2 linked regions of the Homo sapiens genome follow. The protein of the gene in region 2 purifies or fractionates together with the protein of the main gene of each other region. This does not show direct contact. Each region holds a gene or a part of one and is shown on either strand. Other genes may lie near its edges.

Region 1 (4,237 bases), on a different chromosome or scaffold from region 2:
ACCCCCCATCTCGACACATTACAAAAAGAAGTTATTAACGTCTAAACCTTAGGTTGAAATAACTATTGTTCTACTTTTCTTTTTCTCCCAACTAGGTATTTCTAATTCTCCTACCGGATACACACAAACTAATAGTTAATATAGCGCAAAGATAAAGATACACACACCGAACTAAACGCTGAAGAGGCTAACGGAATTGCTTTCAACTAGATTTAAACAGAAATATTAAATCCTCATAAGAAAAAAAAAAACAGCCTCAAAGAGAACCGGTCAGTGAAAGTGCAGAGTGGCTGGAGCAGGCGGCCTGGGGGAGGGGCGAGGCCTGGCGCTGCGCGATTCCGCATGGAAGAGTGACCTCTGGAGGCACCGGGCGGGCAGCGGCGCCGCGGGCTCCCCGCGACCGCCTCGCCCGCCCGCCCGCCTCTCCCGGACTCCGGGACCCGCTGCTGCGCGAGGTCCTAGCCCGGCTCCTTCCGGCACCACCTGGCGCCTCCCGAGCCGGCATCGATGCAAAGATGCCGCCGCCAGTACTTCATCAGCAAATACAACAATTTACATTAAAAATATAATCCATGCAAGAGCAGACTACATGGAAGGAGGCAGAGCTAAGTAACTTCTCCGTATGAGCGGTGTTGAAAGTGCCTTCTAGCATCATACAAACATTTGTTTAAACCGATTTGTAACCGACGTTTTCGCCCTTTTCATGAAGGGATTCTTGGTTAACATGTTAGTGAATTTGAAATTTGACACTTTTAAGAGAATGGACACACTCCTTTAAGACGTGATTTCTAAATCAATCCCCCATTTCTTTTCTCCTAAAACCAGGCCCAACTTGCTCAACTTCAATTAGGCCATTGATTTTGCTTCTGATCTCAAACGTTTTCTCCAGAAACCAGCTAATGTCTGCATACTTCTTCTCCAAGTTTCCCGAGACTACAATTCCAAGATTCTGTAAAATATGTTTTGGCTGTGATTCGAAATAAGGGGATACACAGTACTGAATACCCAGATGACTACGAGTTATGACCACACAGATTTAGGGATGGATGGGATTTTCTAAATTCTGAATGCACTCTGGTGGCCCAAACTGAAAGTTACTCTCCACAAGGCCTGGCTCGCTCCCGGCTGTAGAGTCCGGTAAGAGCAAATCTGATCCTAAGGATCCCATTCCTACCAGGGTCCCGAGGGAGAAGGCTTCAGGAGCAGTGTCGACTGGGCAGGGCCCTAAGCTTTTATAGGAAGTGCATTACAATCAGGTCGGCCATCGAGACCGCATACTCCGGGGCTACCGGCTTATGAACGAAGCGGGAGGCCGAGGTGCGGCGGGCCCTCAGGGAGAAGCCTAAGGCCCGTCTCCCCGGCGCGGAGGAAAGGGCTCGACGCCCGAGTTCTCCTGCGAAGCAGGCGAGCTCCCCGCGCACCCTCGGGCTGGCGGCGCGGTGCCAAGGCGCCCCGGCTCCAGGGCTCTGCGGGCAGCGTAGCGACTCCAGGCTCCCCTCTCCAGAACGCGCTTCGCTGCCAGCGTCCTGCCACCCCGGTCGCCCGCCCGCGGGCCCCGGACCACGCCGCCCGCGCTCCCCGCGAATGCAGCATCTCCGCCTCTCTCCAGAGCCCACCAGTCCCCGCGTGCCGGCCAGCCTAGATTGTGGCCATGTCCTTCGTCCTCGAAAACAGGAGAGGGTCAGGTATCGCCATCGGACACCTTCCCGGACTTGACACCCGAGCCGATAGTAGCTTTTAGCGCCTGGGAGCGTTCGGGGGAGGAAAGGCGGAGAGACCGTCCGTTCCAGCGGGGCTCGGGTTGGAAAGCCGAGCGAGGAGTCTCCACCTAGTGAAATGGGGCGGGGGTTGGGGGTGGGGGACGGGGAACCGAGGTTCCAGAAACAGGCTCCGAGGCCCCGCGGACTGACCCCTCCTCCCGCCCGGACGGCGCGGCGGACCCCGGGGCGGGGACATAGGGGGATCGCGGACGCCACTTACTTGGAGTTCGAGGAATTCCAATAGATAGGCTCTAAAACTATCGATTTGGAAATCGCAGTTCTGCATAAAACCATCAAAACACCCCAGCAGTACTTCCACACGGAGTCCCTTCTCACAGCCATGGCGAAGCCACTCCCAGCTCCGCGCACTCCGGGCCAAGAAGGGACTGACGGGACGCAGGCTGGGACCCCCAATCCTCCGGGGCAGACTGGCGGGGAAGACGGCGTGCGCCCGCAGGCAGCTCCGAGGCGCGCTGCGCAGCTCCAGCGGTCGCCGGGCCAGGTGCGCTCGCTCTCCGGGGCCCTCAGGGCGCGGGGCGGGAGCGCACGCGCGGGGCGCGGCGGCGCGGCGGACTCGGGGTTCCGGGGCGCCGCGCCGGACGCAGCTCGGACGGCCGACTCCCGTGCGGCTCCAGGGTGCCGGGCCGGCCGCGGCTGGCGGGTGGGCGCGGGGCGGGTGCGGGCTGGGACACAAAGACCCGGAGCGGAGACGACCGGCGCGGGCGGCGGGCGCTGCGCCCCGAGCGGGGCCGCCTGTGACTATAGATCCAGTGCAGCGGGCAGCGGCCCGAGCGCGCGGGCGCCGCGTCGGCGCGGTTCCATGTCCCGGAGCACGGAGCGGAGTAGGGCGCCTCCGGGCGCGCAGGAGCCTTCTCAGTCCGCGCGGCTCCCGGCCCCCAGGGCAGGAAAGAGGGAGCTCGGTCCCCGCCGCGGGCTCCGGACGCGCGCGGGCCTTTGTGTGCGGGGAGGGCGCCGGGACCCGCTGCGTGCGCAGCTCCTCGCTCCGGCCGGCGCCGCGGTCCCCGCCGAGGAGAGTCAGCGCGGCCGCCGCGCTGTCAGAGCGCTATAAACGCGGGGCCCCGCCCCGCCGCGCGAAGCCCATTGGCCCGCGGCTCCGCGGCCGCGCGCTGGTTGGACGGCCGGTCCGTCCGTCCGCCATCCCCTCCCGACATTGGGTGCCGCGAGGCGGGGCTCGGGCTGACAGGTGAGCCCCGCCCCTGGCTCCCGCGGGCGGCGGGAGCGGAGCAGAAGCCGGGCAGGAGAAGCGCTCAGCGCGTGCACAGGGCGCCCCCGGGGCGGCGAGAGGCCTTCTGGGCGCGGTGCAGACGTGGAAACAGCGACGGCCGAGTAGCGGGCCACCTGTCTCCGCGCCCGGGGGCGCCTTCCCCCTCGGCGGAATCAGAGGGCGCGGCTTTCCCTCGAGCAGTGCGGAAGGCAGCAGGCTCCGCTCGGCGTCCCTTCTCCGCAGATGCGGCGCTGCCCCGCGTGCAAGACTTGCACTCCGCGCGCACCCTTAGAGCTCCCGGCTTCTGCGCGCTTCTCCCGACGCCTCTCGGCGAGGGCTTCTCACTTGATTTTGGTACCAATCGCCTACGGCTCAGTTTCAGTCAGTGGGGCCGGGAATTGCAAGACGATTCCTGCGACGCGGCGCCGGAATTTGCAGCTCTAATCAGGGCCTGAGCATCGTCGCCTCCCGCCTTCTCTGCGGGCGTCTCCCTTCCCTCCTGGCCCCCCGGGAAGGTGGCGCCCCTGGAGCTTTCCCCGCGTGTCGCCGGCACAGGCACGACGCGGGGACCGTCTCACTAGCCTCTAGGAGACACGCGCGCTTCCCAAAGTGACCAGAGATTTAGAGGGTGTGAGATGGAAAAGTCAAGGCATGTGCTTCTCACTCGGCGTCTGCAAGACCCCAGAGCAGAGCTGGCAGGAACTCCTCGCTACTTTCCCGGTCGAGCGCCGGTGCTGACGCTCGTCCGTGACTTCCACGGAGCCACAGCGCCCACTAGCGGCCAGCTTTGCTTCTCCGCATCTCGAGCGCTCTGCGGTCCACCGACCCGGATCCAGCATACTGCAGCATCTAATCAAGTCACAGTTCCAAGGAAAATCTTTTTATATGTCCAACAGTAGGAAGAACACGGTAGAAATAAGGCACAGTGCAAATGTACGATTCAGTATGAAAAATTAAAATATACTGTATGCCCACGTTTTTTTTCAATTTAATGCCGTCCACCCCAGGATTTATGTTTCAAACACAAACTGGGCAGTAATTCTACAAATTATGTATTTTTAAAACAAAGTATCCACTACGCTAAATTTAAAAATGCATATGGTAAAACACCTTGTTTTCTTTCACTCTTCTTTGTAACAATTTCTGAAGATTTTTATGGTACGTTGCTTTTAAGTATCCGTTTTTGAAACATTAGTCTAACTTAACGTATACATCTCAGTTGGAGTGGTAAAAGCTTGTGAAGACTAGTTTA
Region 2 (4,742 bases):
GCATGGTTAAATACATTTGTATGCCTTTTCTCTTATTCATCGGCCTTATTATAAGTTGATTTTTCAGTGAACCATCGGAGGGCAAGGGGATAGCTTCTCCTTCACCCCAACAGTTTCAAGCAGATAATGATTCACACCTAGACTTAGTCTCAAGACACTTCAGAACAGTAAGAGTAATAGGCCAGGCGTGGTGGTTCACACCTGTAATCCCAACACTTTGAGAGGCTAAAGCAGGAGGATTGCTTGAATCCAGAAGTTCAAGACCAACCTGGGCTGCAAAGCAAGACCTGGTCTCTACAAAAATATTAAAGAGTTAGCTGAGCATAGTGGCACGCACCTGTAATCCCAGCTACTCAGGAGGCTAAAACGGGAGGACTGTTTGAGCCTAGGAGTTTGAGACTGCAGTGAGCTATAATTGCACCACTGCACTCCAGCCTGGGTGACAGAACAAGACCCTATCTCAAAAAAAAAAAAAAAGGAATAATAATAAGAAAATGTCCTAAAAGCTTCCGAAGAGAAAAATGAAGGCATATTACATAATGGCACGAGAATAAGCTTGGCCATCCCACTTCCTAATGAGCATAAGTGGATGAATGTTAGGAATGTAGCAATATCCTCAGAGTTCTGAAAGAAAATCATTTTGGGCCGGGTGCAGTGGCTCATGCCTCTAATCCCAGCACTTTGGAAGGCTGAGACAGGCAGGTTGCTTGAGCCCAGGAGGTCAAGGCTGCAGTGAACCTTGATCGCACCACTGCACTCCAGCCTGGGTGACAGAGAAAGAGAGAAAGAGAGAAAAAGGGAGGGAGGGAGGGAGGGAGAAAAAGAAAATCATTTTGAACAGAATCATACCAGCTCACACTTAACAAAATGCTTTCCCTGGTCAGGCAGTTCTGGGTGCTTCTCAACCCCAACAGCGGTAGTATAAAAGTAAGTGCCATTGTTAGGCCGGGTGTGGTGGCTCACGCCTGTAATCCCAGTACTTTGGGAGGCCGAGCCAGGCGGATCACTTGAGGTCAGGAGTTCAAGAAAAGTCTGGCCAACATGGTGAAATCCCGTCTCTGCTAAAAATACAAATATTAGCAGGGTGTGGTGGTACACCACCGCACACACCTGTAATCCCAGCTACTCAGGAGGCTGAGGCAGGAGAATCACTTAAACCTGGGAGATAGAGGTTGCAGTGAAAACGAGCCACTGCACTCCAGCCTGGGCGACAGAGTGAGACTCAAAAACAACAACAGGGATAAGTGCTATTGTTATGCGGATTTCACAAATCAGGGAAATTGGCAAGATGGTAGAAAACATCCACCAACCCTTCCCTGAAGATCATTATAGAACCTCAATAAAACAAATTAAATATCATCTTGAAGGCATCAGAATGCAAACAATGTAATGAAGAGTCACCAGGGCAAGATCCAGGGACGAAGGAAACCCAGAGGGGCTGCCCAGCCTCTGAGGCTGCTTCACATCAGAGAGTTCATTCAGATCAGAGAGATGAGAGGATGCAGGTCAGAGAGACCTACATCCAGATCACATGACTGAGACGCTGACCAGGGCTTTGGCGACTTGGGTACCTACCAAGAATCAGGCCCTGGCAAACCTCTCTGTACTTGTGGTTAGAACCCCAAAGGGCTGCATCCAAGACTTAAGGATGAACCAGTCCAGGTGTGGTGGCTCACGCCTGTAATCCCAGCACTTTGGGGGGCCGAGGAGGGTGGATCACTTGTGGTCAGGAGTTCGAGACCAGCCTGACCAACGTGGTGAAACTCCATATCCACTAAAAATACAAAAATTAGCCAGGTATGGTGGTGGGCGCCTATAATCCCAGCTACTTGGGAAGCTGAGGCAGGAGAATCGCTTGAACCCGGGAGGCGGAGGTTGCAGTGAGCTGAGATCGCACCATTGCACTCCAGCCTGGGCAATAGGGTGAGACTGCTTTTAAAAAAAAAAAAAAAAAAAAAGCATGAACCAGAAGAAGTAAACCAAGCCTCACACTGGCTGCAGCACACCTTCAGTTTGGCTGGGTGCTCCAGAAAGCTCCATTTCCAAGATTGCCCTAGACTGCTGGTCACCCTCAGTGTCCAACAGAAGGAAAAGAAAATCCTCTCTGAAGATAAATAGACAACATTCTTTCAGGCTCAAGTTACTTCTATGAACAATTTTCAAATATAAAGTCTGGAACATAATCAAAGATAACCAGGCCAGGTGTGGTGGCTCACGCCTGTAATCCCACTGCTTTGGGAGGCCAAGGCAGGAGGATCGCTTGAGCCCAAGATGTAAAGGGTGCAGTGAGCTACACTGCACACCATCATGGGCAACAGGGCAAGACCCTCTTTCTATTTAAAAAAAAAAAAGTTTTTCTTTAATTTTAAAAAATTAATTTAAAAATAAATTAAAATCAAAGATAACCAGACACACAGCACAGGAGCCTAGACAACATGAATGAAAATTGGCAGAAACAACACAACTGACCACTGACTAAGTATCAGCCATTCTATGAAGTCAAAGTGTTTAAATTATAAAGGAGCAAGGGTTACTGAGAGTGGGTGGCTAACTGCCTAAGGGGCCAGGAATCGGGGGGATTACTCAACTGACTGAAGAAAACCATAACCACATTTGCACAATGTGAATCAGAAGCAAAGGTCCAAGCAACGACCTGTTTAAAGCCCACAAGTGTCTGCCTGATGAACAGCAGGGACCCCATTAAAACAAACAAATGTCAGTTTCTAAGCTATGGTAGAAGCACAGTATTTCCAAGTGTTAGAAATGCCTGCAAAGTGCTTGCAGAAATTAGGGGAGGAACTGGGGACCTTTCAGTCATCTATAGCGGTTTACTAATGTGTGGAATGAACTCAGTTTACCTTGAATTGTGTGTTACTTGGCTTTATCATGTGTTTCTGAAACATTATTGCCCTATTTAAATGAGAGCTCATAGCAGCAAATCTAGCTGTGTCTCACTAACAGCCCCTCCAGTCCTACCTAGACAGGCCTGTCCAAGGGCTGAGGGAGTCATATCTTACCTGGGTGAAGCGGATCCTGAGGGAGAGCAGAATTCCCACTCCGAGGCACGTTGTTTACTTTCAAATTGGCGTGTACCTGAGCCTGGAAAATGAAACTCAGTCCATCAGGCTTCACAATAGTGTTAATATGGTATTTTACTTGACCACCTAGTTTAGGAAGAGCCAAGCCATTTTCCTTAATTGGCATGTATAGCTGAAGTTCCTCTCATTCACAGGTCATCTTTCATAAAGATTGAAATGGGGCCAGGCTCAGTGCTCACACCTGTAATCCCAGCACTTTGGGGGGCTGAGGAGAGAGGATTGCTTGAGCCCAGGAATTCAAGGCCAGCCTGCGCAACACAGCAAGATCCCATCTCAATTAAAAAATTAAAAACAAAAAAATAACAACAACAACAAAAAAAACAGCCAGGCATGGTGGCGCATGTCTGTATTCCCAACTACCTGGGAGGCTGAGACAGGAGGATCACTTGAGCCCAGGAGGTTGAGACTCCAGCGAGATGTGATCCTGCCACTATAGTCCAGCCTGGGTGACAGAGTGAGAGCCTGTCTCTTAAGAAAAAGAAAACAGAAAAGGCTGAAATGGGGTCCATGAAAGGGAAGGTGGGATGGGAACAGTACAGGGTGAGGGAGACAGGGACAAGAGAGGGACCAAGATCATTTAGAACTCTCCCTTTTTACTTTATCTCTTTCTTTTTAAAACATTTTTATTTGTAGAGACAGGGTCTCGCTCCATCACTCAGGCTGGAGTGCAGTGATCACAGATGACTGCAGCCTCGAACTCTAGGGCTCAAGCGATCCTCCTGCCTCAGCCTCCTGAATAGCTGGGACTACAGGCATAAGCCACTGTACCTCGACTCATCTCATTTTTCTACCACCTATTTCTAGACCTCACACTGACCCTAGAAAGTTGAAGGGAAGGATGCACACAAGTATCTTAACAAAACATTTGGAGACCATAAAAACAACATCAGGATGACTTTGATGCATCCCACATTTCTCTCCAGTTCTAATTCTTGTCCTGAAATTGGATTTTCCTGCACAAGGGTGACAGCCTGGCATGGGAGACAAGGAAGAAAGGAGTCCCCTGTTTTTCTGGGAATAGATAAAGCCAGGATCATCTGGCCCTTCACATCTGAACTGTCTAGTTAAAACAACAAGAACAATAGTATTCATGAGATAAGAATAAAGAAAATGAGAAAAGAACTTTCCAAAAGAAAAAAGGGAGAGCCAGATCAGATCCTGTTTTTCTAGGAGAGGAACCTTTACCGGGACAGAATGAACATAGTTACCTGCTGACAGGCTTTTTTCCAATTTAGCTGAATAATAAAGCCTAGAAAACACACAGCTTGAAAGACTGTACAGATGATGATCCCTGACCACAGACCTAGAAATAGAAATATTTAATAGAGGTTAATTCCATAGAAAACCAGCTGCCCCTGGGGAGTATGTTTTGCCTATATCACTTCTGTCAGCCATACTGAATATCTGCTTTCATGGCTGAGGTGGAGCCCACAGCGGGCCAGAGACCTCTATCCTGCTCCTCCTCAGGCTTCCAGAAGGTTCCAGAAGGTTCTGGAAAGCCCAGTACTCCTTGAGGCCACCCCCAAAAGGGCCATCTCTTTTGGTTCAGGATTTCGGAACAAATATTCAGAGGATATTTTTGGCCTTACTGATTATAATGCTTGAATATTAAGAAAAATGCCAGTTATAAGGAAATTAAAATTT

Evidence for each region. Proteins that work in one complex are often made in the same cells at the same time.
Region 1: the proteins of SLC47A1 (region 2) and EFNB2 purify together in Homo sapiens (affinity purification with mass spectrometry; one large-scale study listed by BioGRID and IntAct). This does not show direct contact.

Annotation. Positions count from the first base shown.
Region 1 is NC_000013.11:106,532,863-106,537,099, forward strand, and holds the start of EFNB2 (ephrin-B2 isoform 1 precursor), read right to left. Parts: upstream 2,801-4,237; 5' UTR 2,103-2,800; coding exon 1,981-2,102; intron 1-1,980. UniProt on the Homo sapiens protein: Cell surface transmembrane ligand for Eph receptors, a family of receptor tyrosine kinases which are crucial for migration, repulsion and adhesion during neuronal, vascular and epithelial development.
Region 2 is NC_000017.11:19,571,137-19,575,878, reverse strand, and holds part of SLC47A1 (multidrug and toxin extrusion protein 1), read right to left. Parts: exon of another isoform or gene 4,402-4,742; coding exon 4,307-4,401; intron 3,100-4,306; coding exon 3,018-3,099; intron 1-3,017.